Regions from separate parts of the Homo sapiens genome. Here all the other regions are linked to region 1. The links come from fine-mapping of genetic effects on gene expression. A gene starts in region 1. Each other region holds a variant in brackets. All regions are shown on one strand. Distances are from middle to middle. Region 1 holds the start of KRI1 (KRI1 homolog). Region 2 has its middle 5.5 kb from the start of ATG4D. Region 3 overlaps SMARCA4 (SWI/SNF related BAF chromatin remodeling complex subunit ATPase 4). Region 4 has its middle 7.1 kb from the start of AP1M2.

Region 1 (8,100 bases):
TTTAACTATTGGCGGAGAGCAGGAGCTCACGCCTGTAATCCCAGCACTTTTGGAGGCCAAGGCAGAAGGATCCGTTGAGCCCAGGAATTCGGGACCAGCCTGGGCAACAAAGCAAGAACCCCAACATAAAAAAAAAAATCTGTATTTAAAAGCCAAACACAAATAACAAACAAAAAACACCAGCCTGGGCAACATAGTGAAACCTCATATCTACTAAAAACACAAATTAGCCGGGCGTGGTGGTGCGCCCTGTAGTCCCAGCTACTCGGGAGGCTGAGGCAGGAGGATCACTTGAGCCCGGGAAGTCGAGGCTGCAGTGAGCTGTGATCGCGCCACTGCACGCCGGCCCGGGTGACAGGAGTGAGACCCTGACTCAAAAATAAATACATATATAAATAAAAATTAACTATTGTCTCTGGCCCCAGACCATAGGTGTCCCTGCAGCAGGGGCCGACTGGCGTGCTCTCCACTCGGGCCCCTCTAGGAGGTGCTAAGTAAATATTTGAACGAAGACCTCTGAGTCCCTGTCTGGCTGCGACTATGTCCTCTCAGGCCTTCCCACGTGGCAGCTGCAGGCTCCTTTCCTGCTGGCTCAGTCTGAGCCCGGCAGGGTGATCCCTTCCTCATCCACTCCGTCTCTCCGTTTCCCTTTCTTCACGGTGCTTGACACTATCTAATATTATTTGGTTGTTTGAATGTGCGCGTCCAGCTCCCAGGACGCTCCCTGCACACAGTGAATGAATAAATGAATGAAATAAAGCGCCCAGCTCGTAGTAAGGGCCAATGAATGTCTATTAGTAGTGGAACCTCGGATTGGGTGGCTCCAGCCCTGCCTCCCTTCCCTCAGGAGGCGCCGAGGTCCCAGAGCAGCCCGCGCGACCCTGCCCCTGACCTTTCTCCCTGGGTCAGTTAAACCAGCCTTCTTTCCCGCCTGCCGGGTTCATTTGAAAACCGAAAACCCCGCCATTGCCGGCGGTCCACCGGTTGCCACACTCTGACCAATCAGGAGCGACGCGTTTCACGCCGAGCCCGAAGTTTCCCCGGCGACGCGCAGCCACTGGTTATGCAGGCCCTGTGGGCGGAACGCCGTAAGGTCGCGCGCCGGGCAACGCGGTGCCGCTACACAGTAGCGAGTTTGTAAGAAAACAAATCAGTTGCGTTCGGGGCGTGGCCGGGAGCACGTTGGCTCCGCCCCCTGGCGGCTGCCTCAGCGGCGGCGGCGGCGCAGGCTCAGAGCAGACCCCGCCCGGCGAGGAGGAGGGAGGGTGAGTTAGGGGGAGACCCGGCCCCCAAGGGGCGGGCGCCGGGCAGGGCCCCGCGGGCGGCCGAGGGTTGGGCCCGGCTCCCAGCCCCTCGCCGTCCTCCGGCTGACAGGGGGAGGAGCCCGCCGGGAGGGCCGGGGTCTCGGGCTGGGGAGCCGGGACGGGAGAGCAGCGCAGCCGGGTGCACCGCGGCCGCGCCCCGGGAGGGCTGTTCGGGCCAGCGCCCGCCGGCTGCTCCGCGCTGACAGCGCCGGGCTGGGGCGGGGCGGGGGGCTTTGCAGGCCGCCAGTGTCGACATGCTGCTGGAGGAGGTTCGCGCCGGCGACCGGCTGAGTGGGGCGGCGGCCCGGGGCGACGTGCAGGAGGTGCGCCGCCTTCTGCACCGGGAGCTGGTGCATCCCGACGCCCTCAACCGCTTCGGCAAGACGGCGCTGCAGGTGAGGCCGGGCCGGTCCAGGTTGGGGCGGGGCGGCTAAGCGGGATGAGGATCGAGACCCCAGAGCTCCTCTCTGGTCTCCTGGCCCTGGTGGTGACCCACTGGGAACCGGTCCTTCTTCTCTAGGCTTTCATTGTTCCCCCACAGTCCCCCTTCGAAGGTGGGTGGTGGGTGAGGCTAGGTTGTGGGGGGAGGGGAGAGCTTTTTAGCATCTTCTCTGGGAGGATTCCTGGTTCTCTGAGTGCCGGGGATTCACTTTCCCTGGGGAGGTTCTTATTCCGTGGGTGCGGGTTCAGCTCCTTTGGATGCCGTTTCCATGGGGACGGCTCACGTTTCTTGGGGCTTCTATGGGGAGATCCGATCTCTGGAAGGAGAGGTCCTGTCTCTAGGGGTTCCTCATTTTGTAGGGGGCTCTCTGAGACAAATCTGGTTACTTGGGGGTGGGGTCTTCATTCCTAAAGGTTATGCGGATCCTTGATATAGTATGGGGGCCCCAATGGAGGAACAATGTCAGATTGCAAGACATCCCTATATTCCCTGGGAGACATTTTACAGGGAAGTCTCGTTTCTCTTTTATTATTACTTTTGGAATCCCGCTTCTTGAAAGGAGCTCTCAGGTACTCTGAGGTGACATCACCATTATGTAGGAGGAGGCTATTTCCTGGAGAAGGGGTTCGCTTTCCTTTGACATCTTTTTTCCCTTATGAGGACTATCAATTCTTTGGGGGTAGTTCTCCATCTCTGGGGGCCCATTTCCTGGAGGGGATTTTCTGTTTCCTGGTGATTGCCCATATCTGGGGGCGTCTTTGGTCCCTTGGGGGAGAGTCTTAGGTTCCTTGAAAGTTTCCATGGGGGGCTGTTCTCTGGGTTGGGGGGTCTCATTCTTAAGGGAGTGACCAGCTTTTGGGGGGGGTCCCTATTCCCAGAAGAACTTTCCTGGGGGCTTATGCAGCTTCTCCGTTCACTAGAGGACCCCTCCTCTAGCATTTCCTGTTTCTGGGAGATGCCTCTTTCTGGATGACCCTTCTCTTTCCAGTGACCCCTTTTGTGGAACCTCCTCCCTTGAGGACCTCCTGATCCTCTGTCCCTCACACAGGTCATGATGTTTGGCAGCACCGCCATCGCCCTGGAGCTGCTGAAGCAAGGTGCCAGCCCCAATGTCCAGGACACCTCCGGTACCAGTCCAGTCCATGACGCAGCCCGCACTGGATTCCTGGACACCCTGAAGGTCCTAGTGGAGCACGGGGCTGATGTCAACGTGCCTGATGGCACCGGGGCACTTCCAATCCATCTGGCAGTTCAAGAGGGTCACACTGCTGTGGTCAGCTTTCTGGCAGCTGAATCTGATCTCCATCGCAGGGACGCCAGGGGTCTCACACCCTTGGAGCTGGCACTGCAGAGAGGGGCTCAGGACCTCGTGGACATCCTGCAGGGCCACATGGTGGCCCCGCTGTGATCTGGGGTCACCCTCTCCAGCAAGAGAACCCCGTGGGGTTATGTATCAGAAGAGAGGGGAAGAAACACTTTCTCTTCTTGTTTCTCCTGCCCACTGCTGCAGTAGGGGAGGAGCACAGTTTGTGGCTTATAGGTGTTGGTTTTGGGGGTGTGAGTGTTTGGGGGACGTTTCTCATTTGTTTTTCTCACTCCTTTTGGTGTGTTGGACAGAGAAGGGCTCCTGCAGGCCACAGCCACCTAAACGGTTCAGTTTCTTCTGCGCCTCAGGCTGCTGGGGCCTCAGACGAGACCCAAGGGCAGAGCATTTAAGAGTGAAGTCATGACCTCCAGGGAGCCTAGAAGCTGGTGGCCTTGGCCGGCTGTGCTCAGAGACCTGAAGTGTGCACGTTGCTTCAGGCATGGGGGGTGGGGGGAGCGTCCCAAATCAATAAGAAGGTAGAATGAGTTATGAGTTATTCATATTCTGTTGGAAGCTTGTTTTCCAGTCTCTTGTACAGCGTTTTAAAAGAAATGGATTCTATTTATTATGCTTTATTGGAAAAAATGTTGTAATAATTTAATGTTTTTACCCATTAAATTAAGACTTGTGCATGATCACAGCACGGGTGGCTTCTGATTTTTGAGTCTGGGATGGAGAGTTACACATCCCGGATGTTGATGGGGATGAGGACGGGGGTCGCGGATCGTGGATGTGGTGGGTGAGGGGAGAGAATAGTAATTCCCAGGGCGCCAGGGTGAGTGAGCTGGGTGGGGCAGCGGTTTTCGCTGTCGGAACGGAAGGGAAGCAGGAAACCGCGAGTGGAGAAAGGGCCCCCAGATGTCAGCTGGGTGCCCGGAGCACAGGGGGTGGGGCGGGTGGGCGGTGGCCGCGGCCTTCCCCGCAGGGGCGTAGCCGTGGGCGGTGACTGCGGTGATGAGGCGAAAGGGATCCCGGAAAAGCCAGGGGCGGGGTTAGCAGCGGTACGCCTCGTTTACAAGTGGATGCGGGCGGGACTGAGGGCGGCCCCGCCCCGTCCAGGGCTTCCTCAATGCGCGTGCGCAATGGGCCACAGAACCGCCATGCCGGAACCGCGCGGGTCGTCGCAGCTGCGGGTGAACGCGGCGTTTGCCGCGCGGTACAACCGCTACCGGGAGCGCGAGGAACTGCAGCGGCGTGAGTGCGGGGCGCATGCGCGCGGGAGCCTGCGCGCGCCGGCCGGTTGGGAAGTGGGGAGTCGAGTGGCCCCGCCGGCTGACCTGGGGGGGGGCATCCCGTCTGTGTCCCGCAGTGAAGGATCGCTACGGGGACCGAGACAGCAGCAGCGACTCCAGCTCCGAGTCGGACTCAAGCGACGAGCGCGTGGTGCGCGTCCCCGCCCCGTCCTGGACGTGCGGAGGCGTCCAAGCCCCCCTCTGCACCCCGACCCCGATGTAGACGGGGGGGAACCCCCAACCCCAGAGCGCCCTGCGGGAGCGTCCCATCCTCCGCTCCCCATCCCATGAGGGACAGACAGTGCCCCCCCTCTCCCCAGGGGAGCCAAATCCCCGTTATTTTCTCTCCCCTGCCACGATCCCCACCTGCCCACTCTGATGTGTGGGGCGACTCTGTCCCCCAAGAACCCCCCCTTTCCTCTTTCATCCTCAAGAGTCTAGCCATTTTTTAGTGTACTCCTTGCGCCACGTGGGGCGCCCAACTTCTCACATCAGCCCTGATCCTGGCCCCACTGTGCGGCCTGGCCCAGCCCCTCCCCGCTGTCTCTCTTGTGCCCTCAGCCCACCTGCCCCTTGTCAAGTCTTTGTCTTCCCCAGGAATTACCTTCTCCTTGCCCCTCACCTTCCTCTACCCATATCCTGTACCTACCTGTGGCCTGCCCCTGCCCACCCCAAGAGGGCCCCTCTCCCTCCTGCTGTTTGACCACCTGTTTGACCTCCCCAGCCAGATCCACCCCCCTCCATCCTAATCCCTACGCTGAGCTCACCTGCTGGCGCCAGGGCTCTTATTATCTCCCTTCTGAAATCTATCCCCAACCCTTTTCCTGCCCTAGGAATTTGATCCCCAGCAGGAGCGGGACTTTTACAAAACGCTCTCCTTGTTGAAGAAGAAGGACCCCCGCATTTATCAGAAAGATGCCACCTTCTATAACAGAACAGGTCCGGGGCCACTCCTGTCTAAACCTCTCCTTCCTCTGGAGCAGAATCCGGGGTCCTTTCCTGACTGTGGATTCAGAGAAGTGACTTGACTTCTCTGAGCCTCTTTTCCTGTCTGTAAAGTATATCTAACGGTAGCATCTCCCCTCAGGGCTGTTTTAAGGATAGATTGGGATTTACCCAGTTTACACAGTTCATCTGTTTTGACTATTGAATGAATTGCTTCACAAGTCACAAGTCCTTAGCAGAGCCTAGGTTATTACCTGGTGGTGGAGTTAATGACTGTGTCCTTGGCACTATTCAAGGTGGGAATTGCTGACTGAATGATTCCAACTCCACCAGGCTGGGCAGGTGGTTCAAGCATCTAATCCCAGCACTTTGGGAGGCTGAGGTGGGAGGGTCAATTGAGGCCAGGAGTTTGAGACCAGTTTGGCCAACATAGCAAGACCCCATTTCTCTTTTTTTTTTTTTGAAATGGAGTTTCACTCTTGTTGCCCAGGCTGGGTTGCAATGGGACGATCTCAGCTCACTGCAACCTCCGTCTCCCAGGTTCAAGCGATTCTCCTGCCTCAGCCTCCTGAGTAGCTGGAATTACAGGCACGCGCCACCACGCCCAGCTAATTTGGGATTTTTAGTAGAGACAGGGTTTCTCCATGTTGGCCAGGCTGGTCTCGAACTCCCAACTTCAGGTGATCCGCCCACCCTGGCCTCCCAAAGTGCTGGGATTACAGGCGTGAGCCACTGCGCCCAGCCAGCCTTTCTTTCTTTTTTCTTTTTTTTTTTTTGAGACGGAGTTTTGCTCTTGTTGCCCAAGCTGGAGTGCAATGGCATGATCTGGGCTCACTGCAACCTCCGCCTCCCCGGTTCAACCGATTCTCCTGCCTCAGCCTCCGGAGTAGCTGGGATTACAGGTGCGTGCCACCACGCCCAGCTATTTTTTTGTTATTTTTAGTAGAGATGGGGTTTCACCATGTTAGCCAGGCTGGTCTCGAACTCCTGACCTCAGGTAATCCATCCGCCTTGGCCTCCCAAAGTGCTAGGATTACAGGCGTGAGCCACTGTGCCTGGCGGCAAGACCCCATCTCTACAAAAGATTCAGAACTCAGCTGAGCATGCTGGTGTGCGCTTATAGTCCCAGGTATTTGGGAGGCTGAAGTGGGAGGATTGCTTAAGCCCATGAGTTCAAGGCTGCAGTGAGCTGTGGGCTAGGATGTTGACACTGCACTCCAGCCTGAGCAAGAGTAAGACTCCAACTCTCAAAAAAATTAATTATAATAATTAATCAGGCTGGGCATGGTGGCTCATGCCTGTAATCCTAGCACTTTGGGAGGTTGAGGCGGGAGGATCACTTGAGGTCAGGAGTTCGAGACCAGCCTGGCCAACATGGTGAAACCCCATCTCTACTAAAAATAACAAAAATTAGCTGGGCGTGGTGGTGCACACCCGTAATCCCAGCTACTCAGGAGGCTGAGGCAGGGGAATCGCTTGAACCTGGGAGGCGGAGGTTGCAGTAAGCCAAGTCACGCCATGCACTGGGCAACGGAGTGAGACTCTGTCTCAAAAAAATAATAATAATGGCCGGGTGCGGTGGCTCACGCCTGTAATCTCAGCACTTTGGGAGGCCGATGCAGGCAAATCACCTGAGGTCAGGAGTTCGAGACCAACCTGACCAACATGGAGAAACCCCATCTCTACTAAAAATATAAAAATTAGCCGGGCGCGGTGGTGGGCACCTGTAATCCCAGCTGCTTGGGAGGCTGAGACATGAGAACAGCTTGAACCCGGGAGGCAGAGGTTGCAGTGAGCCGAGATCATGCCATTGCACTCCAGCCTGGGCAACAGAATGAGACTCCACCTCAAAAAAAAATAAGTAAATAAATAATAACAACAATAATAATAATCAAAGCAGGAATTACTGACTGAATGACCCCAACCCCACCAGATGGTGACAAGCACAATACTCTTGGACAGCTGGGAATTGGTGGATTTGGGATTTGAATCCTCTGTCTAACCCTGGCCCTGCCCTGTGGGATTCTCTGCCACGGCAAAGAAGGGGGTTGTGGGTGATGGCAGGTGTCTTTGGTGGGTTAACAGCATCGTCATCAGACAGTGAGGAGGACCCAGAAGCCTTGGAGAAGCAGAAGAAAGTGCGGCCCATGTACCTGAAGGACTACGAGAGGAAGGTTATCTTGGAGAAGGCAGGGTATGGAGAAGGCCTACATCCCCACCCCCTGGTTCCCAGCCCTGTCAGGTCTATGGGGGTCTTAGGGGCAGGAGAGGGAAAAAAGCTGGCAGCCTGGGCCGGGCATGGTGGCTCATGCCCATAATCCCAGCACTTTGGTAGGCTGAGGCAATAGGATCGCTTGAGGACAGAAGTTTGAGACCAGGCTGGGCAACATACCCCGCCTCTACAAAAAAATTAAAAATTAGCTGGGCATGATGATGTGTACCTGTAGTCCCAGCTACTCAGGAGGCTGAGGCAGGAGGATTGAGCCAGGAGATGGAGGCTGCAGTGAGCTATGATCAGGCCACTGCACTCCAGCCTGGGCAACAGAATAAGACCCTGTCTCAAAAAGAAAAAAGGCCGGGCATGGTGGCTCATGCCTGTAATACCAGCACCTTGGGAGGCTGAGGCGGGCAGATCACCTGAGGTCAAGAGTTTGAGACCACCCTGGCCAACATGGTGAAACCCCGTCTCTACTAAAAATACAAAAATTAGCCAGATGTGGTGGTGGGCGCCTGTAGTCCCAGCTACGTGGGGAGGCTGAGGCAGGAGAATCGCTTGAATCTGGGAGGTGGAGGTTGCAGTTTTCCGAGATC
Region 2 (8,100 bases), 28 kb after region 1:
ATCTCGACTCACTGCAAGCTCTGTCTCCCAGGTTCACACCATTCTCTTGCCTCAGCCTCCCGAGTAGCTGGGACTACAGGCGCCCGCCACCACGCCTGGCTGATTTTTTGTATTTTTAGTAGAGACGAGGTTTCATCGTGTTAGCCAGGATGGTCTCGATCTCCTGACCTCGTGATCCGCCCACCTCGGCCTCCCAAAGTGCTGGGATTACAGGCGTGGGCCACCGTGCCTGGCCACCCCTGGCTAATTTTTAAAAATTTTTCTGTAGAGATAGAGTCTCCCAGTGTTGCTCAGGCTAGTCTTGAACTCCTGGGCTGAAACGATTAGCCTCAGCCTCCCAAAGTTCTAGGATGACAGACATGAGCCACTGCACCTGGCCAGGGACAATTTTTATTTTTTATTTTATTTTCATTTATTTATGTATTTATTTTGAGATGGAGTTTCGCTCTTGTTGCCCAGGCTGGAGTGCACTAGTGCGATCTTGGCTCACTGCAACCACCACCTCTCAGGTTCAAGCAATTCTGCTGCCTCAGCCTCCTGAGTAGCTGGGATTACGGGCGCACACCACCACGCCCAGCTAATTTTTGTATTTTTAGTAGAGATAGGATTCCACCACGTTGGCCAGGCTGGTCTCGAACTCCTGACTGAGGTGATCCGCCAGCCTCGGCCTCCCAAAGTGCTGGGATTACAGGCATGAGCGATTGCACCCAGCCAGGAAAAAGTTTTAAATGTGTCTAACTCATAAAGATGTATGGGAATGAGCTGAACTTACCAATGTAAAGTGCTTAGAGTGGTATTTGAGGAACAGTTGGGGCTCAGTGAGAGCCAACTGCATGATGACAATGCAGTGACCCTGTGAGCCATGGAGAGGGTGGCCTCTAGTGGCCAGCCCCGGGGCTCTGTCCTCAGCTCTCTGAAGGAGGTAAGAAAGATTTGAATGAGGGTGTGATCCAAGAAGGAGAAGGCACAAAAGGGGCAGTCACCTCCCTGACTTTCCTTTTTTCCCCTCTCCTCCCAGTCGCCTTCAATCACAATTGACCCCTTTCTCTTTCATTAATTTATTAATTTATTGATTTATTTTATTTTATTTTTTTGAGACAGAGTCTTGCTCTGTAGCCCAGGCTGGAGTGCACTGGCACAATCTCAGCTCACTGCAACCTCCGCCTCCCAGGTTCAAGCAATTCTCCTGCCTCAGCCTCTGGAGTAGCTGGGATTACAGGTGTGAGCCACCACACCCGGCTAATTTTATATTTTTAGTAGAGACAGAGTTTCACCATGTTGACCAGGCTGGTCTTGAACTCCTGACCTCAGGTGATCTGCCCGCCTGGGCCTCCCAAAGTGCTGGGATTACAGGCTTGAGCCACTGCAACCAGCCAAGTGCACCCTTTCTCAAACTCAACAGAGCCAATGCCACCTCAGAGTCTTTGCACTTGCTGTTCCCTCTGCCCAGACCACGTTTCTTACCATGGCTCTCCGTCACCTCCTTCAGGTCTTTTTTTTTTTTTTTGGCAGGGTCTCACTTTGTTGCCCAGGCTGGAGTGCAGTGGCACGATCATAACTCACTGCAACCACGACCTTCTGGGCACCAGTGATCCTCCTGCCTCCTGAGTAGCTGGGATTACAGGCATGTGCCACCACACCCAGCTAATTTTTATATTTTTAGTAGAAATGGGGTTTCACCATGTTGGCCAGGCTGGTCTCGAACTCCTGACCTCAAGTAATCCACCCACCTCAGCCTCCCAAAGTACTGGGATTACAGACGTGAGACACTGTGCCCGGCCGCAAGTCTTTATTCAAATATCACCCCTACACGAAGATTACCACTCTCAAAATTCTCCCCCATCTCCATCCTTGGTCTCCTTCTCTTCCCTGCCTTTTTCCCCCTCCCCGCCGCATGGGAGTAGTTATCACAACCTTACTGTCTTTATCCCCTTGGGCTGCTGTGACAAATACCATAGCCTTGGGGGCTAAAACAACACACCTTTGCTTCTCACAGTTCTAGAGGCTAGAAAGTCCCAGATCAGGGTGCCAGCATGGTTCTTGGTGGGATTCTCTTCTATTTTTTGTTTTGTTTTGTTTTTTTGTTTTAGATGGAGTTTTTGCCCAGGCTGGAGTGCAATGGCAATCTCGGCTCACCACAACCTCTGCCTCCCGGGTTCAAGCGATTCTCCTGCCTCAGCCTCCCGAGTAACTGGGATTACAGGCGCCCACCACCACACCTGGCTAATTTTTTGTATTTTTGGTAGAGACAGGGTTTCTCCATGTTGCTCAGGCTGGTCTCGAACTCCCGACCTCAGGTGATCTGCCTGCCTTGGCCTCCCAAAGTGCTGGGATTACAGGCGTGAGCCACCGCGCCCAGCTGAGATTCTCTTCTTATCTTATATCCTCTCACCTGCCTTCCTTTCTTTTTTTTTTTTTTTTCTCACAGTCTCACTCTGTTGCCAGTACTGGAGTGCAGTGGCATCATGATCTTGGCTCACTGAAGCCTTGACATCCTGGTCTCAGCCGGGCTCGGTGGCTCATGCCTGTAATCCCAGCACTTTGGGAGGCCGAGGCAGGCAGATCACGAGGTCAGGAGATAAAGACCATCCTGGCTAACACAGTGAAACACAAAAAATTAGCCAGGTATGGTGGCGGGCGCCTGTAGTCCCAGCTACTCAGGAGACTGAGGCAGGAGAATGGTGTGAGGGCCCCACCCTCAAGATTGCGTCCAACCCCAATTCCCTTTTTTTTTTTTTTTGAGACAGAGTCTCACTCTGTTGCCCAGGCTGGAGTACAGTGGCGCGATCTTGGCCCACTGCAACCTCGACCTCATGGATTCAAGTGATTCTCCTGCCTCAGCCTCCCGAGTAGCTGGGATTACAGGCACGCGCCACCACACCCAGCTAATTTTTTGTATTTTTAGTAGAGACAGGTTTCGCCACGTCGGCCAGGCTAGTCTTGAACGCCTGACCTCAGGGTATCTGCCCTCCTCAGCCTCTCAAAGTGCTGGGATTACAGGCATGAACCACTGTGCCCAAGTGTATTATTTTCGAGACAGAGTCTCACTCTGTCACCCAGGCTGGAGTTCAGTGGTTCAATCAGGACTCATGGCAGCCTTGACCTCCTGGGCTCAAGTGATCCTGCCTGAGCCTCCTGAGTAGCTGGCACCGTGGGCACACACAACCGCATTCCATTGGAGTTGACCACTTTGAGCCCAGTGTAGGCCCAGGG[G/T]TCTTTGGATTCTGCACTCAGTACAGACTGTGCAGCCAGATGGCTCAGATAAGGGACCTCGCCACTCTCTGCCTCAGTTCCTTTTTCTTTGAGAGATGGGGTTGGGCAACTCGCTCGGGTCCCCTTCCACACTGTGGAAGCTTTGTTCTTTCGCTCTTTGCAATAAATCTTGCTACTGCTCACTCTTTGGGTCCACACTGCCTTTAAGAGCTGTAACACTCACCGCAAAGGTCTGTAGCTTCACTCCCGAGCCAGCGAGACCACGAACCCACCAGAAGGAAGAAACTCCGAACACATCTGAACACCAGAAGGAACAAACTCTGGACACGCCACCTTTAAGAACTGTAACACTCACCGCGAGGGTCCGCGGCTTCATTCTTGAAGTCAGTGAGACCAAGAACCCACCAATTCCGGACACATTTTGGCGACCCAGATGGGACCTTCGCCAATTGCCGAGCGGTGAGACCATCGCCTATCGCTGAGCGGTGAGACAATCACCTATCGCCAAGCAATGAGCAAATGGAGACACAAAGAGATGACATAATGTGGCCAAGGTTTCATTCTAGTAAGTTGCTGATCTGGAATTCTAACCCAGGAAGTCCTGTCTCCGGCGTCTATGATTTCACCCACTACACTATACTTCTTAAGCATGTCAAGAAAGTGAGAACTTTAAATTGATTTAATTAGACTAACTATGAAAGTCTGAAAATAAAATTGATTCATTGGAAAAAAAAAAAAAGAGAGAGAGACGGGGTCTCACTCTGTTGCCCAGGCTGAAGTGTGATGGTGCAATCATTGCTTCCTGCAGCCTTGAATCCCTGGGCACAAGTGATCCTCCTGCCTCAGCCTCTCAAAGTGTTAGGATTACAGGGGTGAGTCACGGTGCCCGGCCACTGTCTTAGTTTCTTTATCTGCCAAATGGGGTAGTGATACTGCCTCCCTTCTAGTGTTTGGGAGAAGGATGAAGTGAATATGCACAATGCTTTGAACAGTGCCAGGCACATGGTCTCCACCACGTCAGTGTGAATTATGACTGTTCTTGTTATTCTTATTCCCACCACTGCCCTCCTGGGTCCAGCATCCATCATCCTAGTCCCTGGTCTCTTAGCTGCTATGTCTGACCCCTCAAATCCACAAACAGCTAGAAGGACCTAGCTGTTTTTTAATTTTAATGTTTTTTTTTTTTTTTTGAGACAGGGTCTTGCTGTGTTGCCCTAGCTAGCTGGTCTCCAACTCCTGAGCTCAAAGAATCCTCCGACTTCAGCTTCCCGAGTAGCTGGGAATACAGGTACACACCACCCCACTCAGCTTAGAACGGTATTTTTATAAACAAATTCCATCATGCCAAAAAAATCTGGAAAAGAATCCGGCGGCTGTGGCTCACACCTGTAATCCTAGCACTTTGGGAGGCCGAGGCGGGCAGATCACTTGAGGTCAGGAATTCGAGACCAGCCTAGACAGTGTGATGAAACCCTGTCTCTATTAAAAATACATAAATTAGCTGGGTATAGTGGCAGGCACCTGTAGTTCCAGCTATTCGGGGGGCTAAGGCAGTAGAATCGCTTGAGCCCGGGAGGTGGAGGTTGCAATGAGCTGAGATTGCTCCACTGCAGTCCAGCCTGGGCGACGGGATTGAGACTCCGTTTAAAAAAACAAAACAAAACAAAAACAAACAAACCAAAAAAAAAAAACCAACCCAAAATTGGAGAAGTACAATCCAGTAGAAAAATAACATGAAATATAATTTTCAATATTCTATTAGCCACATTTTTTAAAAGTAAAAAGAAACAGGTGATATCAATTTTAATAATTCTTTTTATTTATCCCAACGCATCCAAAATGTTATCATCTCAACATGTAATGAAATAGAGACAAGGTCTCTGTCACCCAGGCTGGAGTGCAGTAGTGCAATCAGTACTCACTGCAGCCTTGACCTCCTGGGTTCAAACGATCCTGCCTCAACCTCCCGAGTAGGGGGGACCATGGGCACACACCACTACATTCTGTTGGAGTTGACCACCTTTTTTTTTTTTTTGAGTTGGAGTTTCCGTCTTGTTGCCCAGGCTGGATTGCAGTGGCATAATCTCGGCTCATTGCAACCTCCGCCTCCTGGGTTCAAGCGATTCTCCTGCCTCAGCCTCCCTAGTAGCTGGGATTACAGGCGCGTGCCACCATGCCCGGCTAATTTTTGTATTTTTAGTAGAGACAGTGTTTCACCACGTTGGCCAGGCTGGTCTCAAACTCCTAACCTCATGTGATCCACCTGCCTCAGCCTCCCAAAGTGCTAGGATTACAGGTGTGAGCCATTGCCCCTGGCCGTGGAGTTGACCACTTTGAGCCCAGTGTAGAGGCCAGGGGTCTTCGGCTTCTGCACTCAGTCTGGTGAGACTGACCCAGGTCTCTCAACAATTTCTTCCCTTCCTCCTGTCTTCCTCCTTCTGCTCCCAAAAGATTCGTGCCCTTAAAAAAGCCAGTCACCACGCACCTACACCTCAGGAACCCCCTGGCTGGGCTGTCCCAGGCTTTCCAAGATTGAACTCGTAGCCACACTTTGGATGCCAAATAACTGTCACTGTCACAGGTCAGCCTGGATTGTGGGTTGAATTCTCTGTCCTCCAAATATTCATGTGGAAGTCTTAACCCTGGGTATCTGTGAATGTGCCTTTATTTGGAAATAGAGTCTTTGCAGATTGATTGATTAATTTTTAGAGACTCGATCTTGCTCTATGGCCCAGGAGTGCAGTGGTGTAATCATAGCTCACTGTAGCCTCCAACTACAAGAATCAAGCTGTCCTCCTGCCTCAGCCTCCCGAGTAGCTGGGACTACAGGAGCACACCACCACGCCTGGCTAATTTTAAAAAATTTTTGTCAAATGGGTGGGGCACAGTGGCTCACGCCTGTAATCCCAGTACTTTGGCAGGCTGAGGTGGGCGGATCACTTGAGGCCAGGAGTTCGAGACCAGCCTGGCCAACACGGCAAAACCCTGTCTCCACTAAAAATACAAAAATTAGCTGAGCGTGGTGGCAGGCACCTGCACTAAGGAGGCTGAGGCAGGAGAATCGCTTGAACCTGGGAGGTGGAGGTTGCAGTGAGCCAAGATTGTGCCACCGCACTCCAGCATGGGCAACAAGAGCGAAACTCCATCTCAAAAACAAACAAACAAACAAACAAACAAAAAGACCATGGGAAGCTAGGAAGGACCCAGCTATGAATTCCCCTCTAGAGCCTTCAGACAGGGCATAGCTCTACCACCAACCTTGACTTTGGACTTCTAGCTTCCAGAGCTGTGAGAGAATACACGTCTGTTTTAAACCACCTAGTTTGTGCGAATTAATTACTGCAAGCCTGGAAATGAATGGAGTCGGTTTCTCCCTCTTCTCCAGCAGGCCTCAGCTTGCCCACCCACAGCTCAGAGGCCTGTCCTGACCTCCAGCTTGGGCAAGTCGCCCTGTGTGTGTTCTCAGGTCCACCTGATCACACTTGCCATCATTCCTAATCAGCTGTGTCATTGCTTGTGAATCTGTAAGTCGGCTGTAAGAACAAAACTCTCAGCCGAGTGCAGTGTCTCACACTTGTAATCCCAGGACTTTGGAAGGCCAGGGCAGGAGGATCACTTGAGCCAAGGAGATTGAGACCAGCCTGGGCAACATAGTGAGACCATGGTCTCTACAAAAAAAAAAAAAAAAAAAAAAAAAAAAAAGCTGGGCAGGGTAGCACTCATCTGTAGTCCCAGCTACTTCAGAGGCTGAGGTGGGAGCATTGAGCCCAGGAGGTGGAGGCTGCAGTGAGCTGTGAGTGCGCCACTGCACTCCACTCCAGCCTGGTTACCAGAGAGAGACAGACCCTGTCTCAAAAAAAAGAATATCCATTATGGCCAGGCACGGTGGCTCATGACTGTAATCCCAGCACTTGCGATGCTGAGGCAGGAGGATTGCTTGAGCCCAGGAGTTCAAGTTTGAGACCAACCTGGGCAACATGGGGAGACCCTGTCTCTACAAAAAAAAAAAAAAAAAATAGGCAGGCTTGATGGCACATGTCTCTGGTCTTAGCTACTTGTGAGGCTGAGGTGGGAAGATAGCTTCAGCCCAGGAGCCGGAGGTTGTGACGAGCTGAGATCGTGCCACTAACTCCAGCCTGGGTGACAGAGTGAGAACTGGTCTCTATAAAGAAAAAAAAAAAGACTGGCATGGTAGCTCACACATGTAATCCCAGCACTTTGGGAGGCTGAGGTGGGAGGATTGCTTGAGGCCAGGAGTTGAAGACCAGCCTGCGCAACATAGTGAAACTCCGTCTCTATAAAAAGAAAAAAAAAGTTACACTTGAATGGTTCTGTGGGAAAAAAAAAAAAAGAATCTGAACATCATTAGCCATCGGGAAAATTCAAAATAACATAGAAATCAGATACCCCCCAAAATCCTCTAGAACCTCTAAAATGAGAAACACTGACCTTAATGAGTGTTGGAGAAGATGTACAGGAACTAGACTATTTTATTTTATTCATTTATTTTGAGGCGGAGACTTGCTCTGCCACCCAGGCTGGAGTGCAGTGCTGCGATCTCGGCTCACTGCAATCTCCGCCTCCCGGTTCAAGCGATTCTCCCGATTCTCCTGCCTCAGCCTCCCCCAGTAGCTGGGATTATAGTCATGCGCCACCACACCCAGCTAATTTATTTTATTTTTTATTTTTATTTTTTGAGACGGAATCTCACTCTGTTGTCCAGGCTGGAGTGCAGTGGTGTGTTCTCCGCTCACTGCAACCTCTGCCTCCTGGGTTCAAGTAATTCTCTTGCCTCAGCCTCCCAAGTAGCTGGGACTACAGGTGCACACTGCCACGCCTGGCTAATTTTTTGTATTTTTAGTAGAGATGGGGTTTCACTGTGTTGCC
Region 3 (8,100 bases), 480 kb before region 1:
GGAGGCTGAAACAGGAGAATTGCTTGAACCCAGGAGGCAGAATTTGCAGTGAGCTGAGATCAGGCTACTGCACTCCAGCCTGGCGACAGAGTGAGACTCTGTCTCAAAAAAAAAAAAAAAAAAGGAAATATGTCCCCACTGTGTTCCCTCGGACGACTGCGGCACAGGCTCACTGAAAGGAAGGGCCTCCTCAAGGCAGGGGGCTGCTCCGAGTTCCAAGGGAGGCCAGGGCAGGAGGGAAAGGCACGAGCGGCTCCCCCAGGCCTCCTGCTGCCAACTCCACACACCTGCACCTCTGTCTCTAATTGTCCTGTCCTAAGCTTTCCTTAAACACGCCATTCTAGTTTTCAGACTCATTCTTCTAAACCAGTTGCCTTGTTTATTTGTGTTATGTAAAGGTCTCTATCACTGAGGGGGAGACTTGGGGGTAGGGCCCGACTCACAAACAGAGGAGGGGGAGCTTCTTCCAGCAAATCCTGGGGCAGGCGCAGAACCCCAGCACGGCTCCACAGGGAACCTGACCGCAGGCTGCGTGGGCAACTCCATCCATGACTTTTAGGCCCCCTGAGCCCTCTGCCATGGTTATGTTGGACCCAGTGCCCTGCACCCAGCCTATGCCCATAAGTGGGCATGCCTGGGGCTCATCTGCTCGGTGCCCTCATCCAGCCAGTGCCTGCACAGCACCAGGGTCCAGGCTATGTGCCAAGCAGACCATAGACCTGGAACCACAGGCCAAGGGCCAGACAGCCCTGAGGAGCCCCCCTGTCCCCAAGGAATGGCTCCCACTCCTGCCCACCCTCCACCTGCACCCTTCCCTCAGGGGCCCTGCCCTGGGGGCTTGAAGGAGTGTGACAAACACTTTCAAGCCTTGGGATGACCTCTCCTGCAGAATGTTTCAGGCAGGTCTGAAACATTCAGACAATCTGTTTCATTGTTTTTCTTGCACAAGGTATAACCACTCAACTCTGAAGAGCCAGGAGGGACAGTGCTTGTGGAAAGGCAGGGAAACAGTGCAGACAGGCCTTCAGCAGTAGCAGCCAGCCCCTGCCAGACCCAGGCCAAAGCTGTCACCACGAATTGGCAAGGCAGCAGCTCAGGCCCTGGGCTAGGGACCATCGTCCCCTCCCACAGTGCACACAGTGCTGGCGTCTGGGCTGTGTGCCTGGCCACGTTATTTCAGTCAGGCCCCTGTGCTGCAGACGTGGAGACTGAGGCACAGAGACAGGTGTGGAGTGCAGATCTTCACTGCATTCAGGTCCCTCCTACAGTAACCACAGGGCTGCTGCCTCCAGGCAGTGGGGAGTGGGAATGGAACCCAGAGGGCCCGCCTGGTGGGGCCAGAGCTCTTGTGAGGCTTAGCTGCGGCAGCCTGGACCCGTCACCGTCTTTCCGAGCTGCCCGAGCATAGTCTGCAGCCATTGTGCCCCTCTAGCCCTGAAGCTGTGCACGTGTCTCCTGACCTCAGCACAAGCATCAAGTTCAAGTTCAACACCACCGTCTAGCACAGTCTTTTTTTTTGAGACGTAGTCTCACTGTCACCCAGGCTGGAGTGCAGTGGTGCAATCTTGGCTCACCGAAACCTCCTCCTGGGTTCAAGCGATTCTCCTGCCTCAGCCTCCCAAGTAGCTGGGATTACAGGCGAGTGCCACCATGCCTGGCTAATTTTTGTATTTTAATAGAGACGGGGTTTTTGCCACGTTGGCCAAGCTGTTCTCAAACTTCTGAGCTCAAGTGATCAGCCCGGCTTGGCCTCCCAAAGTGCTGGGATTACAGATGTGAGCGCCTGCGCCTGGCCCGCATGGTCTTTATTGTAGCAGCATCTCTGCCCTATCACTGTCGCAGGCAGGCTGGTGGCTGGCGGGGTGGTCTTTAGCAGGCTGCTGGCTGAGCCCACATGGACCAGCAGATGCCCTTCTCTGAGCCCTTACCAAGCACACCAAGGGTGTGCCCCCTGACACACATGCGGCCTTGACACTTGGACACAGTGCCCCAAATGCCTCAGCCACCAGCTGCTGACTGCTATAAAGAACCCAGGGAGGGAGGCAGAGGTTGCAGTGAGCCAAGACTGTGCCACTGCACTCCAGCCTGGGCTACAGAGCAAGACTCTGTCTCAAAAAAAAAAAAAAAAACACAGAACCCAGGGAAGAAGGTATCAACTGGCAGTGTACAGCCCCACAAGCCCGAACCTGACCCGAAGCCACAGAGAACGTTTCTGCATGTTCTGATTTTAAAGTAAAATCTCCTACATGTAACTTAATTTCTTAATTCTGGTTTCGATTTCTGGCAGGTTCCTCAATGTGGTTTGAGATTTCAAACCACCAAGGAGAAACGCCCTTGGCTAAGGGCAGGTGTGTGGCCCAGGGCCCCTGTGAGGCCCCTGGTGCTGGCGCAGCCCCACTCAAGCCCCTAGCCTCCCTCCAGCCTCTGCATGCACTGTGTCCTCTCTGCCTGGGACACTTGTCCCTCTCCTCCCAGTGGACACTGCTCACACTTCCTGTTCTGCTTACGTGGCCCTTCCCACTGGAGCCACCACAAGCCCCTGGACAGCAGAAGCCAGCACTGCCGGCATGGTACCACAGAACACTCCAGCCTGTTCCTACTGTGGCCCCTGAGCAGGAGGGGCATGTCACTGCACTCTGTGTATACAATGTAAAGGACCGTGGCTGTGACAGCTGGCAGTGCCACACTCCAGGGCCTTGGGAGGAGCGGCCTCATGGCTGTGAATCTGAGTGCAGAAGAACAGAGTATAAGATTCCCAGGCAAGACAACTGTACACGTATGATGAGGTCAACACAGAGGTCACGTCAAACACAATTCTGCCAGAATAAAACACGAACTAGGGGGCTGCAAGTATCTCCAACGATCAAAAGCAATATTTGAAAAGATTCCACCTGACAGGAAGGGCGTCCCTGCCTCTCCAAAAGGGTCTGGCCCCAACACAGCAGCGGGTGCCCAGCTAAACCACTTCTGTCCTCAGGTGTCGCCACCTAGACGGACCATGTGGCTCCCACCTGCAGTCATGGGCACACTCTCCAGCTCGGCGAGGCAGGCTCCTGACACCGAATCCAGAGGACAACGTCCCGTGTTCACTCTTTGAATTGTTAGAACTCAGGTCTACACAGATGCCAGTCTCTTTTCAGGCTTCACATTTAACTCAATTGCAGAGCTGAACTACTTAGAGGGTTCTGGAGAGCCAACTAAAAAACAAAAATTCCGGCCAGGCATGATGGTGGTGTGCACCTGTAATCCCAGCTACTTGGGAGGCTGAGGCAGGAGAATCACTTCAACCTGGAAGGTGGAGGTTGCAGGGAGCCGAGATTGTGCCATGGCACTCCAGCCTGGGTGACAGAGTGAGACTCTGCCTCAAAAAATAAATAAAAAAAAAAATCCAATTAAACAAAAAGAAGTTTTTTTTCTTTTCTTGGAAAGGAGCAATTCAAAGTTGGAGACAAAAAAGTGAGCTGTTAGCTGTGTCTGACTTTATTCCATTCAAGCTCTTCTCAGCCTGGTGCAGCTGTGTGGGGCCAAGGAAGGGCCGAGTGACATGAGCACCACCTGCCATGCAGTCGGTGGCGAGGAAGCTTCCAGGGATCTGACAGATGTGTCATACAGAATGTAACTTCTAGACAATGATGGGCAAATAATAATAATAATAAAAAAGAATGTAACTTCGCCCCAAATGAGGTCTGGCTTTTGCCTGGGGCTCCTGGGAGGTGATCTCTGAGTCCTTAGAATGTCACACCTAATGGCTGTCTTTGTTTACGTGGGGTCTGGGACCAGTCCTAGGTTGGGGCTTTGGGCTATGTAGTTTCTGCTCACCTGCAGAGGGGCTGGAGATGGAGGTCAGCCACGTGGGTAGCCAGCTGTGTCTTTGTGACCAAGTCCCAGTAAAAATGCTGGACACAGGGTGGGTACGGTGGCTCATGCCTGTAATCCCAACACTTCGGGAGGCTGAGGCGGGCGGATCACTTAAGGTCGGGAGTTCGAGACCAGCCTGGCCAACATGGTGAAACCCCATCTCTACTAAAAA[AT/T]ACAAAAATTAGCCAGGCGTGGTGGCGCGAGCCTGTAATCCCAGTTGCTCAGGAGGCTGAGGCAGAAGAATCACTTCAACCCAGGAGGCAGAGGTTACAGTGAGCCAAGATAGTGCCACTGCACTCCAGCCTGAGTGACAGAGTGAGACTGCATCTCCAAAAAAAAAAAAAAACCTCTGGACACGGAGGCTTCTCTGGTTGGCAGTGCTCTGTGTCAACGTCACCGGGAACATCAGCGCTGTCTTCAACTCCACAGGGAGGAGACAAAGGAAAGCCCTGTGTCTGGAACCGTCCAGATCACCTCAAGTGATCCGCCCACCTTGGCCCCCAAGAGGCCCCATACATCTCTTGCCTTGGTTGATTTTAATCTGTAGCCTTGCACTGTAATAAATCATAACTGCAAGCGTAACAACCGCTAGGGCTCTCGGGGTCCTAGAGAATGACGGCACTTGAGGGTGATCTTGTGGACTTTTCCCACCCTGTGGACCCTGAGTTTGTCTTCCCTCACAGCTTCAAATTTAGTTAAGAATATCAGAAATATCCATTAAGTACACCAATTTTGTACCCAAACATCATGTTTGAAATTATTGCTAAATGGAGGCAGCTTTTCTTTTGCTTTTTTTTTTTTTTTTTTTGCAACAGGGTCTCACCTCTGTCACCCATGGTGGAGTGCAGTGATGTGATTATACCCCACTGCGGCCTTGACTTCTTGTGGTCCTTCTGCCTCAGCTTCCTGAATAGCTGAGTCAACAGGAGTGCACCACCACGCCTGGCTAATTTTTGTATTTTTTGCATAGGCGGGGTCTCCCTGTTTTGCTCAGGTTGGTCTCGTACTCTTGGTCTCAAGGGATCCACAAGCCTCACAGCCTTACAAAGTTCTGGGATTACAGGCGTGACCACTACGCCCAGCTGAGGTAGCTTTTCAACGACTATCTTTCCTGAGTTGATGTGCCCTATGTGATGTTTTCCTGTGCAAATCACATTACAGTGAGTGGACAGACCCACGCCTGCTGTGCTTCCAGCACTCAGGAGGCTTTCTTTAATAGTCATCTTTGTTGTCCTACTTGTAATTCCAACGTAGTTACTCCCAGTCCAATGGGCGACCCCCAGGTCTGTGAATCCATCCATTCCAGTAAGATGTGAGGTTAAATTGAAAACACAGATCAAATCCCCCACTGAGGCATCCTCCCACATGGATCCCAGGTAAGACAGGAGCATTGCTGTGTGACTGAAATGTTGGTGTCCTCTTCAAAGCAGGTCTCAAAATCTCTACCAGAATCAAATGTCCCGAAACAGAACAGTTTCGATAAAGCAGTCACTTAGCAGTAAGAGTTAAGATTTGGGGTTTTTTTTTTTTTTTTGAGACGGAGTCTCGCTCTGTCGCCCAGGCTGGAGTGCAGTGGCACAATCTCGGCTCACTGCAAGCTCTGCCTCCCGGGTTCACGCCATTCTCCTGCCTCAGCCTCTCGAGTATCTGGGACTACAGGCGCCCGCCACCACGCCTGGCTAATTTTTTGTATTTTTAGTAGAGACGGGGTTTCACTGTGTTAGCCAGCATGGTCTTGATCTCCTGGCCTTGTGATCCGCTCGCCTCAGCCTCCCAAAGTGCTGGGATTACAGGCGTGAGCCACCACACCCAGACTTTTTTTTTCTTCTTTTTTTTAAATAGAGACAGAGTCTCACTATGTTGGCCAGGCTCATCTGAACTCCTGGGCTCAAGTGATCCTCCGCCTCGGCCTCCCAAAGTGCTGGGATTATGGGCGTGAGCCACTGTGCCCAGCCGAAAGTTTTAATTTATTGTATGATTTATCATCAAATCTTACAAAGGCTACAAGACTGACTGTAGCAGCTGGGTGAGCCATTCCCTCTTTTGTCAGATGATATACAACTAAATATGACCCTAAGAGGGCTCTGTGAGTCTAAAACTAAAAAAAAAAAAAAGTGGACTAACACTAGACATACTTTTTGTCTGAAAATATTCAGGTTCTTAATAAGCTGAGCATGCTGTTTCTGTCTTTTCAAAAACCAAGGTGTAATGGAATACAGAGAAGTGTACATATCTCATGTGTACACCTTGGTGAATGTACACATCATATACACATCCAGATCTATAGAGAGAATATCCCCAGTATCCTAGAAGGCTCGTCGTGTGGCTTTCCTGCTATTCCCTCTCTCAAGGTAAGCACTGCTTGGCAGCCATTACTGTGGATCAGCTTCTGACCCTCACAGAACTGGAGGCACACAGTAGGCCCTCTTTTTTTTTTTAGACGGAGTCCCGCTCTGTCGCCCAGGCTGGAGTGCCGTGGCGCGGTCTCGGCTCACTGCAAGCTCCGCCTCCTGGGTTCATGCCATTCTCCCGCCTCAGCCTCCCGAGTAGCTGGGACTACAGGCGCCCACCACCACACCCGGCTAATTTTTTGTATTTTTAGTAGAGACGGTGTTTCACCATGTTAGCCAGGATGGTCTCAATCTCCTGACCTCGTGATCCGCCCGCCTCGGCCTCCCAAAGTGCTGGGATTACAGGCGTGAGCCACCGTGCCCGGCCAGTATGCCCTTTTTAGTGTCTGGCTTCTTTCACTCAACAAAATGTAAGCTTCTTCCAGGTAGCAGTACTATGTCTGTTTTCACAGCTGTTTGGGGCCCTGTACGATTAGGCCTCCACTGATCCATGCCCCTGTAGATGGACACTGGGCTGATTCTTGTTTTGGGAGATTATGACCAAAGTGGCTATGGACACGTCTGTCGGTGTGGACAGATGCACTCAGCTCTCCTGGGTAGAACGAGGGCTGCAGGCTGCTGGGTCAGAGGGTATGTACAGGCTGAGCCTCAGAAAATATTATCTTCTGCAGTTCGATGGTTAAAAACAAACAAAGCAAAACAGAAGAGATTGCCAAAGAGCTGCATACTCCTACACGCAGGGTGTGAGGCCAGACTGCTTCAGACTTGCCAGCACTGATGGGCATTCGGCCGTTCTGGGGCGGGTGCTGGTGCAAGTCACTCTGGTTTTAACGAGCATTTTCTTGAAGTTGTGATGCTAATGCAATGACGTGAGCACCTTTCCCCACATTGATTAGTCCTGGGATGTCCTGTGTAAGGAGGCGTCTGTTCCCGGCTCTTGTCCAGCTTTAAATTGTGTTGTCTTTTCCTCATCTATGAGGAGTTTTCACTGTCTCCATCAGCGTGTCCATTAATAAACAGATGTTATTAATTTCAGTGAGGTCTAATTTCTCAATTGTTTGTGATTAGTGGCTTTTGGCTCCCGTGGAAGAAATCGATGCCTACTCATGAAGATTTTCTCCCGTGCTTTCTTCTAGAATTTTGTTTTACCTTTCACGTTCTTACATCCACAGTCCATGTCACGTGGATCCAAGTGCATGGTGTGTGCGTGTGTGGGGGTGGTCGAGGCTCATCCTCTCTACGTGGATACCCAGGAGACCAGTGTGATGGAGACACCCGTGCTTTCCCCACTGCGCTTCAAGGGTCTTCTTTAGGTTGGTAATGTTAAGTTTCCCTCACAAGATTATCATTAGAAATAAAACATGGGGAGGGTCTGTCATTGTCATTAGATTTCTGCGAATTCCCTTTTTTTGTTTTTGTTTTTTGTTTTTCAGGTATTGTCTCACTCTGTCACCCAGGCTGGAGTGCAGTGGTGCAATCTTGGCTCACTGCACCCTCTGCCTTCTGGGTTCAAGCGATTCTCGTGCCCAGCCTCCCGAGCTGGGAGCTCAAGCACGCATCACCATGCCAGTTTAATTTCTATTTTTGTATTTTTTGTAGAGATGGGGTTTTGCCATGTTGGCCAGACTGGTCTCAAACTCCTAACTTCAAGTGATCCGCCCACCTCAGCCTCCCAAAGTGCTGGGATTACACGAGCCACTATACCTGGCCCATGTTTTAAATAAGTATTCTGTATTTATTTCATTTTTTTAAGATACAGGGTCTCATTCCATCACCCAGGATGGAGTGCAGCTGTGTGATCATGGCTCACTGTAGCCTGGACCTGCTGTGCTCAAGTGATCCTCCCACCTCAGCCTCCCAAGTAGTGGGGACCCCAGGCATGTGCTACTGC
Region 4 (8,100 bases), 28 kb before region 1:
ACACACAGTTGCCATAGCATGCAGCAAGGAAGAAAGCCAGCAGTAGTAAGTGACAGCCCCTCCTTCTCTTCCCTTCCCTCTTCCTTGGTGACCTGTAACTCCAAGTCCCAGCCCAGGACCCCTAACTCCCAATACTTGAAGGGGTTTTGTTTGTTTTTTTACTAATGATGGTTTTGTGGGTTTTTTTTAAAAAAGGGAAGAGTGGATAAGGGGAATAATAGGGAACAGGTATCCTTTGTTGAGAAAGGGAGAAGAGGTAGGCTGGGAAACTCCAAAGCCTTCCCAGTCCCCAGCACCTGCCGTTCTCACTACCTCCCTGGAGATGGTGGGAGGGAGGGCTTCCTAGGTCTTTCCAGGGTACCATGTGATTCACCTGGGGGTTGAAAGGAATCTGTCCCATATTGGGAATAACATTTATGATGCAAATATATATGTGTGTTTGTATACATAATAAATAAAAAAGTTACATTTCAAAATGAGAATTTTTAAAATAGTTTAAGAAAAAAGGTGGTGGTCCTGCAGATTATAATAAGAGTGACTGTTTACAGCCAGGAGTGGTGGCTCACATCTGTGATCCCAGCACTCTGGGAGGCAGGAGGGTCACTTGAGGACAGGAGTTCAAGATTAGCCTGGACAACACGATGAAAATCTGTCTCTAAGGCCAGACGCAGTGGCTCTCACCTGTAATCCCAGCACTTTGGGAGGCCGAGGCGGGCGGATCACCTGAGGTCGGGAGTTCGAGACCAGCCCGACCAACATGGAGAAATCCCGTCTTTACTAAAAATACAAAATTAGCCGAGTGTGGTGGCACATGCATGTAATCCCAGCTACTTGGGAGGCTGAAGCAGGAGAATCACTTGAACCTGGGAGTCAGAGGTTGCAGTGATCCAAGAGTGCACCATTGCACACCAGCCTGGGTGACAGAACGAGACTCGGTCTCAAAAAAAAAAAAAAGGAAAGAAAGAGTGAATGTTTATAGAAAGCTTAGTCAGTGTCAGACAAGGTATTAAATGCTTTATATATTTTTTTAACTCTTTTTCTTTTTTTTGAAATAGAGACCAGGTCTCATTAGCCTCAATCGATCTGCCCATCTTGGCCTCTTGAAGTGCTGGGATTACAAGCATGAGCCACCATGCTGGCCAAGCACCTTTTTTTTTTGAACCAAGGCTGCTGGAGGGCAGTGGCGCGATCTTGGCTCACCCAGTAAAGTGCTCTCTGTGTGTGTATGTGTGTGTGTGTGTGTGTATATAGTTGTTGTTGTTTGTTTTAGTTTTTGAGATGGAGTCTCACTCTGTCGCCAAGCTGGAGTGCAGTGGCGTGATCTCAGCTCACTGCACCATCTGCCTCCCGGGTTCAAGCAATTCTCCTGCCTCAGCCTTCTGAGTAGCTGGGATTACAGCACCCACCACCACGCTCAGCTAGTTTTTTGTATTTTTAGTGAAGAACGGGTTTCACTGTCTTAGCCATGATGGTGTCAATCTCCTGACCTCATGATCCACCGCCTCGGCCTCCCAAAGTGCTGGGATTACAGGCGTGAGACACCGCGTCTGGCCCAAGCACTCTGTATTAAATCATTATAATCATTTTCCAATTGGGGAAAGTGACCCAGAGAGGTGAAGTAATTTACCCACAGTAACATAATGAGCCCGTGGCTCTGCAAGGATCTGAACCCAGGGAGTCCGACTTTACACCCAAGACACACTTCCTTCCCCTTCAACCACATGCTTTCCGGAGTAGCGTCCAGGTCATATTGTTGAGTGATAATAGCAAGTTGTATTTTTTTTTTTTTATTTAAGACAGAGTCTCTCTCTGTCGCCCAGGCTGGAGTGCAGTGGTGCGAGCTCAGCTCACTGAAACCTCCTTCTCTTGGGTTCAAGTGATTTGTGTGCCTCAGCCTCTGGAGTAGCTGGGATTTCAGGTACGCACCACCATGCCCAGCTTAGTCTATATACATATATATATATATATATATAGTTGTTGTTGCTTGTTTGTTTTGTTTTGTTTTGTTTTTGAGACAGATTCTTGTTCTGTCACCCAGGCTCGAGTGCAGTGGCATGATCTCGGCTCACTGCAACCTCTGCCTCCTGGGTTCAAGCAATTCTCCTGCCTCAGCCTCCCGAGTAGCTGGGATTACAGGTGTCCGCCAGCATACCTGGCTAATTTTTTGTATTTTTAGTAGAGACAGGATTTTATCATGTTGGCCAGGCTTGTCTCAAACTCCTGACCTCAGGTGATTCACCTGCCTTAGCCTCCAAAGTGCAGGGATTACAGGCGTGAGCCACCACACCTGGCCAGTTTTTATATTTTTAGTAGAGACAGATTTTTTGCCATGTTGCCCAGGCTGCTCTTGAACTCTTGGCCTCAAGTGCCCCACCCGCCTCTGCCTCCCAAAGTTCTGGGATTACAGGTGAGAGCCACTGTGCCCATCCACAAGTTGTATAGTCTTATATGGTATGGGAGAAAGAGAGAGAAAGAGGGCAACACGCGCACACACACACACACACACACACACACACACAAACACACACACACACCCCCCTGCATGTAACCCAGCTGAAAAAGATCTGAATCAGCCAGTGGTTATGAGAGGGACGAAGATTGGGGTATGGGGGTGTCACAGGGGACTTTTTTTTTCTTTTTCTCTCACATCTCTGCTGGGAGGAACTTTTGCCTTTTCTTTAGTTTTGTTTTCTATTTTGTTTTCTCAGGAACTGGCTCAGCACAGTATTTTCTTAAGATAGGTTCTTGCTTTGTCACCGAGGCTGGAGTGCAGTGGTGCAACCATAGCTCACTGCAGCCTCAATCTTCTGGGCTCCAGTGATCCTCCCACCTCAGACTCCTGAGTAGCTGGGCATGGTGGCTTACACTTGTAATCCCAGCACATTGGGAGGCTGAGATGGGTGGATCACTTGAGGTCAGGAGTTTGAGACCAGCCTAGTCAACATGGCGAAACCCAGTCTCTACCAAAAATACAAAAATTAGCCCAGCGTGGTGGCAGATGCCTGTAATCCCAGCTACTTGGGAGGCTGAGGCAGGAGAATCACTTGAACTAGGAGAAGGAGGAGGTTGCAATTAGCTGAGATTGCGCCACTGCACTCCAGCCCCTGGGCGACAAAGTGAGAATCCGTCTCAAAAAAAAAAGAAAAAAAAGCTGGGCGCGGCGGCTCACGCCTATAATCCCAGCACTTTGGGAGGCTGAGGCAGGCACATCTCCAGGTCAGGAGTTCCAGACCAGCTTGGCCAAGAGACCAGCCTGGCCAATATGGCGAAACCCTGCCTCTACTAAAAATACAAAAATTAGCCGGGTGTGGTGGCAGGCACCTGTAGTCCCAGCTACTCGGGAGGCTGAGGCAGGAGAATGGCATGAACCCGGGAGGCAGAGCTTGCAGGGAGCTGAGATCGTGCCACTGCACTCCAGCCTGGGCAACAGAGCGAGACTCTGTCTCAAAAAAAAATAATAATAAAATAATAAAAGTAAATGAATAAATAAAATATAAAAAAATAAAATTAGCTGGGCGTGGTGGGGGGCGCCTGTAATCCCAGCTACTCAGGAGGCTGAGGCAGGAGAACTGCTTGAACCTAGGAGATGGAGGCTGCAGTGAGCCGAGATTGTGCCACTGCACTCAAGCCTCGGTGACGGTGAGACTCCATCTCAAAATAAATAAAAAAAAGAAAAGAAGAAGAAGAAGGAGGAGGAGGAGAAGGAAAAGGAGAAGAAGAAGAAGAAGAAGAGTGGGTGCCAGGGGTTGGGAGAGGGAGAAGGAGTGTTTCATAGGGAGAAGTTTTCCTTTGGGAAGATGAGAAAGTTCTGGAGATGGATGGTGGTGACGGTTGCATGGCCATTAATGTGCTTAATGCCACCGAACTGTGCACTTCAAAATGGCTAAGGTGGCCAGCTGTGGTGGCACGTGTCTATAGTCTCAGCTACTTGGGAGGCTGAGGTGGGAGGATGGCTTGAGACAGCAGGAGAGGAACTGAAATTCGGGCAGTTAGGGTGTCTGGGACAGCAGGTTCAGGTGGTGTCCTGTGGCAGAGGTCAGCAGGTGTCTGACTGTGCCAGGTGGGGGTGGTTGGAGGGCAATGGGGGGCCATAGAGGATGTGAGAGTGAGAGTCAAAAAATAATTGTGAGTTTCAGAGAGATCTCTTTAGTGGTGTGGAGAAGGGATTGTGGACAGGGCCTAGAGGCGTGGTCCCTGGGAGAGGCTGGAGGAGGCTCCAGGCATCCAGAAGGAACTAGGACAAGGCCACAGCCTCAGGGGGATGGGGGAGGCCGCCACTGAGGTGGGGCAGGCGGGGCAGGCAGAGCCAGCACACAGAGCTGCTCTGTTCTCTGACCCCAAGTAAGCTTT[T/C]GGGCTCATGAATTTTTCATGCCAAACAAGCCTGGAGTTTCAGATTCCAGGGCACTGGGCCCAGGCTTTCGGGTTCTGCTTACTGCCTGAAAACATCTCAGGGCCCCAGGAGATGAGTTCTTCATTTTGTTGTTGTTGTTGTTTTTGAGACAGAGTCTCACTCTATTGCCCCAGGCTGGAGTGCAATGGCGCAATCTTGGCTCACTGCAACCTCTGCCTCCCAGTTTCAAGTGATTCTCCTGCCTCAGTCTCCTGAGTAGGTGGGATTACAGGCATGTGCTACCACCCCCGGCTAATTCTGTATTTTTAGTCCAGACAGGGTTTCACCATTTTGGCCAGGCTGGTCTCAAACTCCTGACCTCAGGTGATCCACCCACCTCAGCCTCCCGAAGTGCTAGGATTACAGGCGTGAGCCACCACGCCCGGCTGCCAGGAGACGAGTTATTTTGAGGTTCAGCAATGTCTAGGCTGGGGTGAGGGCCTAGCAGTGACTGCATCCCCCTAGGTGACCTTCTCAGCAGGCAGTTGCTGGGAGCATGAAGGACCACCCCCCTCCTTTGGGCAGAAGCAACATAAAGTCTTGGGCTTTAGGCTGGGCGAGATGGCTCACGCCTATAATCCCAGCACTGTGGGAGGCCGAGGCGGGTGGACCACTTAAGTCCACAAGTTGGAGACCAGCCTGGGCGACATTGTGAAACCTGTCTGTACCAAAAAGTATAAAAATTAGCTGGATGTGGTGGTCACGCACCTGTGGTCCCAGCTGTGCAGGAGGCTGGGGTGGGAGAATTGCTTGATTGCTTGAACCTGGGGAGGTGGAGGTTGCAGTGAGCTGAGATCACACCACTGCACTCCAGCCTGGGTGACAGAGACCCTGCCTCAAAAATAATAATAATAATAATAATAATAATCAGGGCCAGGTGCGATGGCTCACCCCTGTAATCCCAGCACTTTGGGAGGCTGAGGTGGGTGGATCACCTGAGGTCGGGAGTTTGAGACCAGCCTGACCAACATGGAGAAACCTTGTCTGTACTAAAAATACAAAATTAGCCAGGCATGGTGGTGCATGCCTGTAATCCCAGCTACTTGGGAGGCTGAGGCAGGAGAATCACTTGAACCTGGGAGGCGGAGGGTATGGTGAGCCAAGGTTGCACCATTGCCCTCCAGCCTGGGCAACAAGAGTGAAATTCCATCTCAAAAAACAAAAAAGTCCGGGTGCAGTGGCTCAAACCTGTAATCCCAGCACTTTGGGAGGCCAACGTGCAATGCGGGCGGATCACAAGGTCAGGAGTTTGAGACCGTCCTGGCCAAAATGGCGAACCCCCATCTCTACTAAAAATACAAAAATTAGCCAGGCATAGTGGCACAAACCTGTGGTCCCAGCTACTTGGGAAGCTGAGACAGAAGAATCACTCGAACCCGTGAGGCGGAGGTTGCAGTGAGTCAAGATCACACCACTCCACTCCAGCCTGGGCGACAGAGCGAGACTCTGTCTCAAAACAAAAAACAAAACAAAACAAAAAAACCTTGTGCTTTCCAGAGCTCAAATCCCAGCTCTGCTTCTTCTGACTGGATGACATTGTACAAATCACTTACTCTCTCAAGGCCTCAGTTTCCCTATCTGTCAAATGAAGATAATAGAGTTGGGGGAGGTGACTCGTGTCTGTAATCTCAGTGTTTTGGAAGGCTGAGGTGGGAGGACAGCTTGAGGCCAGAAGCTCAAGACCAGCTTGAGCAACGTAGCGAGACCCCATCTCTACAAAAAATTTAAAAATTGGGCAGGCACGGTGGCTCACGCCTGTAATCCCAGCACTTTGAGAGGCTGAGGTGTGCGGATCACGAGGTCAGGAGATCGAGACCATCTTGGCTAACACGGTGAAACCCCGTCTCTACTAAAAATACAAAAAAATTAGCCGGGCTTGATGGCGGATGCCTGTAGTCCCAGCTACTCCGGAGGCTGAGGCAGGAGAAGGGTGTGAACCTGTGAGGCGGAAGTTGCAGTGAGCCGAGATTGCGCCACTGCACTCCAGCCTGGGCGACAGAGCAAGACTCTGTCTCAAAAAAAAAAAAAAAAAAAATTTAAAAATTAGCTGGGAGTGGTGTTGCTCACCTGTAGTCCCAGCTACTGGAGAGGCCTAGGTGAGAGGATCTCTTGAGTTCAGAAGGTTGAGGCTGCAGTGAGCCGTGTTTGCACCACTGCACCGCAGCCTGGGCGACAAAGCAAGTCCTTGTCTCAAATAAATAAAAAAAAAAAATAGGCTTCTGTAATTCAAGGGGCTGTCTTGAGGATTCCTGCATGGGCGACATTTAGGGCCACCCTCACTTATGGTGAGCACCATTTAAGCCAGAGTTAGTGTTACTAATAGTAATATTTGCATCCAGCAATATAGCAAAGCAGGCGGAAGCAGGCTGGGACCAGATTCTTAAATCCCGGGACTCAGATTCGAATTCTGGGTCAACTGCCTCCTGGCTCTGGGGCCGTGGGCTTGGGCAGGTGCCTTCACTTCTCTGTGTCCCTGCTTCTACCTTTATAAGATGGCACGAAGGAGACTTGTGCCAGATGATAACTTTTTATTTTTCATTCTATTTATTTATTTTCTTGAGACGGAGTCTCACTCTGTCACCCAGGCTGGAGTGCAGTGGTGCCATCTCGGCTCACTATAACCTCCGCCTCCCCAGTTCAAGTGATTCTTCTGCCTCAGCCTCCCAAGTAGCTGGAATTACAGGCATGCGTCACCACGCCCGGCTAATTTTTGTATTTTTAGTGGAGACAGGGTTTCGCCATGTTGGCCAGGCTGGTCTCAAACTCCTGGCCTCAGGTGCTCTGTCCACCTTGGCCTCCCAAAGTGCTGGGATACAGGCATGAAACATTGCTCCTGGCCCAGATGATAATGTTTTAATTAAAGTGCAGTGCTGCTGTCAATGTTGATGTTAATTTCAGGTGGAGAGGCAAGTGGATGATCCTGATAGCTGCTGTTCTCTAAGTCCCCACCTACAGGGGCTGATAAAGGGCTGGGCAGGGTTTGGGGAAAGGACAAGTGAGGTCTGGGTAGGCTGAGTCTTGTTCCCTGCAGGCCCTGCAGGACATCTCCCTCCCTCAGCCAAGCAAGGTGGTTCTAAGCAAGGCTGAGGTTTACTTTCCCTTTCCTTCTGCCCTGTCCTCAAAACTACCGCACTTTGGGAGGCTGAGGTGGGCGGATCACGAGGTCAAGAGTTCGACAGCATCCTGGTCAACATGGTGAAACCCCATCTCTAATAAAAATACAAAAATTAGCTGGGCATGGTGGAGTGCACCTGTAGTCCCAGCTACTTGGGAGGCTGAGGCAGGAGAATCGCTTGAACCCAGGAGACAGAGGTTGCAGTGAGCTGAGATCGCACCACTGCACTCCAGCCTGGCGACAGACTGAGACTCCATTTCAAAAGAAAAAAAAAAGGAAAGTCCAGGGGTGGAATCTGGGTCTGCAGCAGCTGGTGTGCACGAAACATGCATGGAGCCAGGGGCCATGCCAGGTATTTGGCTATGCAACTGCAGGAGAGGGCACCATGGCTGTTATACCCATTTAACATAAGAGGAGACTGAGGCACAGCAGGTGCATTCACCAGCCCATGCCTTATAGCCAGTGTGTGGTGGTATCAAAAATCAAACCCAGCATCTGTGCTCTCAACTGCTACATCATCATCCAGATCATCATCTTCATCCTCCTCCTTCTCAGCGACATGGTTGACAGTCAGCTACATCCAAGTTCCCTTCCA

What was found.
Region 2: its variant is fine-mapped to the expression of KRI1 in transverse colon (GTEx, PIP 0.99).
Region 3: its variant is fine-mapped to the expression of KRI1 in whole blood (TOPMed, PIP above 0.99).
Region 4: its variant is fine-mapped to the expression of KRI1 in whole blood (TOPMed, PIP above 0.99).

The regions. Positions count from the first base shown.
Region 1 is chr19:10,562,112-10,570,211 of GRCh38, reverse strand. KRI1 (KRI1 homolog) reads left to right here and starts at 4,202. Exons shown (of 19, transcript NM_023008.5): 1 at 4,202-4,306; 2 at 4,422-4,495; 3 at 5,178-5,283; 4 at 7,375-7,483. The coding sequence starts at 4,213. CDKN2D (cyclin dependent kinase inhibitor 2D) reads left to right here and starts at 1,233. Exons shown (of 2, transcript NM_001800.4): 1 at 1,233-1,699; 2 at 2,795-3,752. The coding sequence starts at 1,559. The coding sequence ends at 3,154. RefSeq lists silencers at 967-1,616, 3,932-4,461 and enhancers at 1,897-2,066, 2,506-3,013, 3,962-4,529, 4,732-4,781, 4,530-5,097.
Region 2 is chr19:10,534,387-10,542,486 of GRCh38, reverse strand. No RefSeq gene overlaps it. Among named protein-coding and RNA genes, the nearest start is that of ATG4D, 5.5 kb to the left of the region's middle. RefSeq lists a silencer at 6,587-6,787. The variant G/T (reference allele first, on the strand shown) is at 3,214.
Region 3 is chr19:11,043,515-11,051,614 of GRCh38, reverse strand. All of the region lies in intron 30 of SMARCA4 (SWI/SNF related BAF chromatin remodeling complex subunit ATPase 4), which reads right to left. Among named protein-coding and RNA genes, the nearest start is that of LDLR, 42 kb to the left of the region's middle. RefSeq lists enhancers at 2,189-2,478, 2,569-2,618, 5,216-5,265. The variant AT/T (reference allele first, on the strand shown) is at 4,031.
Region 4 is chr19:10,590,326-10,598,425 of GRCh38, reverse strand. It overlaps the pseudogene LSM2P1. Among named protein-coding and RNA genes, the nearest start is that of AP1M2, 7.1 kb to the right of the region's middle. RefSeq lists enhancers at 2,594-2,783, 4,258-4,782, 5,309-5,833 and a silencer at 7,246-7,446. The variant T/C (reference allele first, on the strand shown) is at 4,351.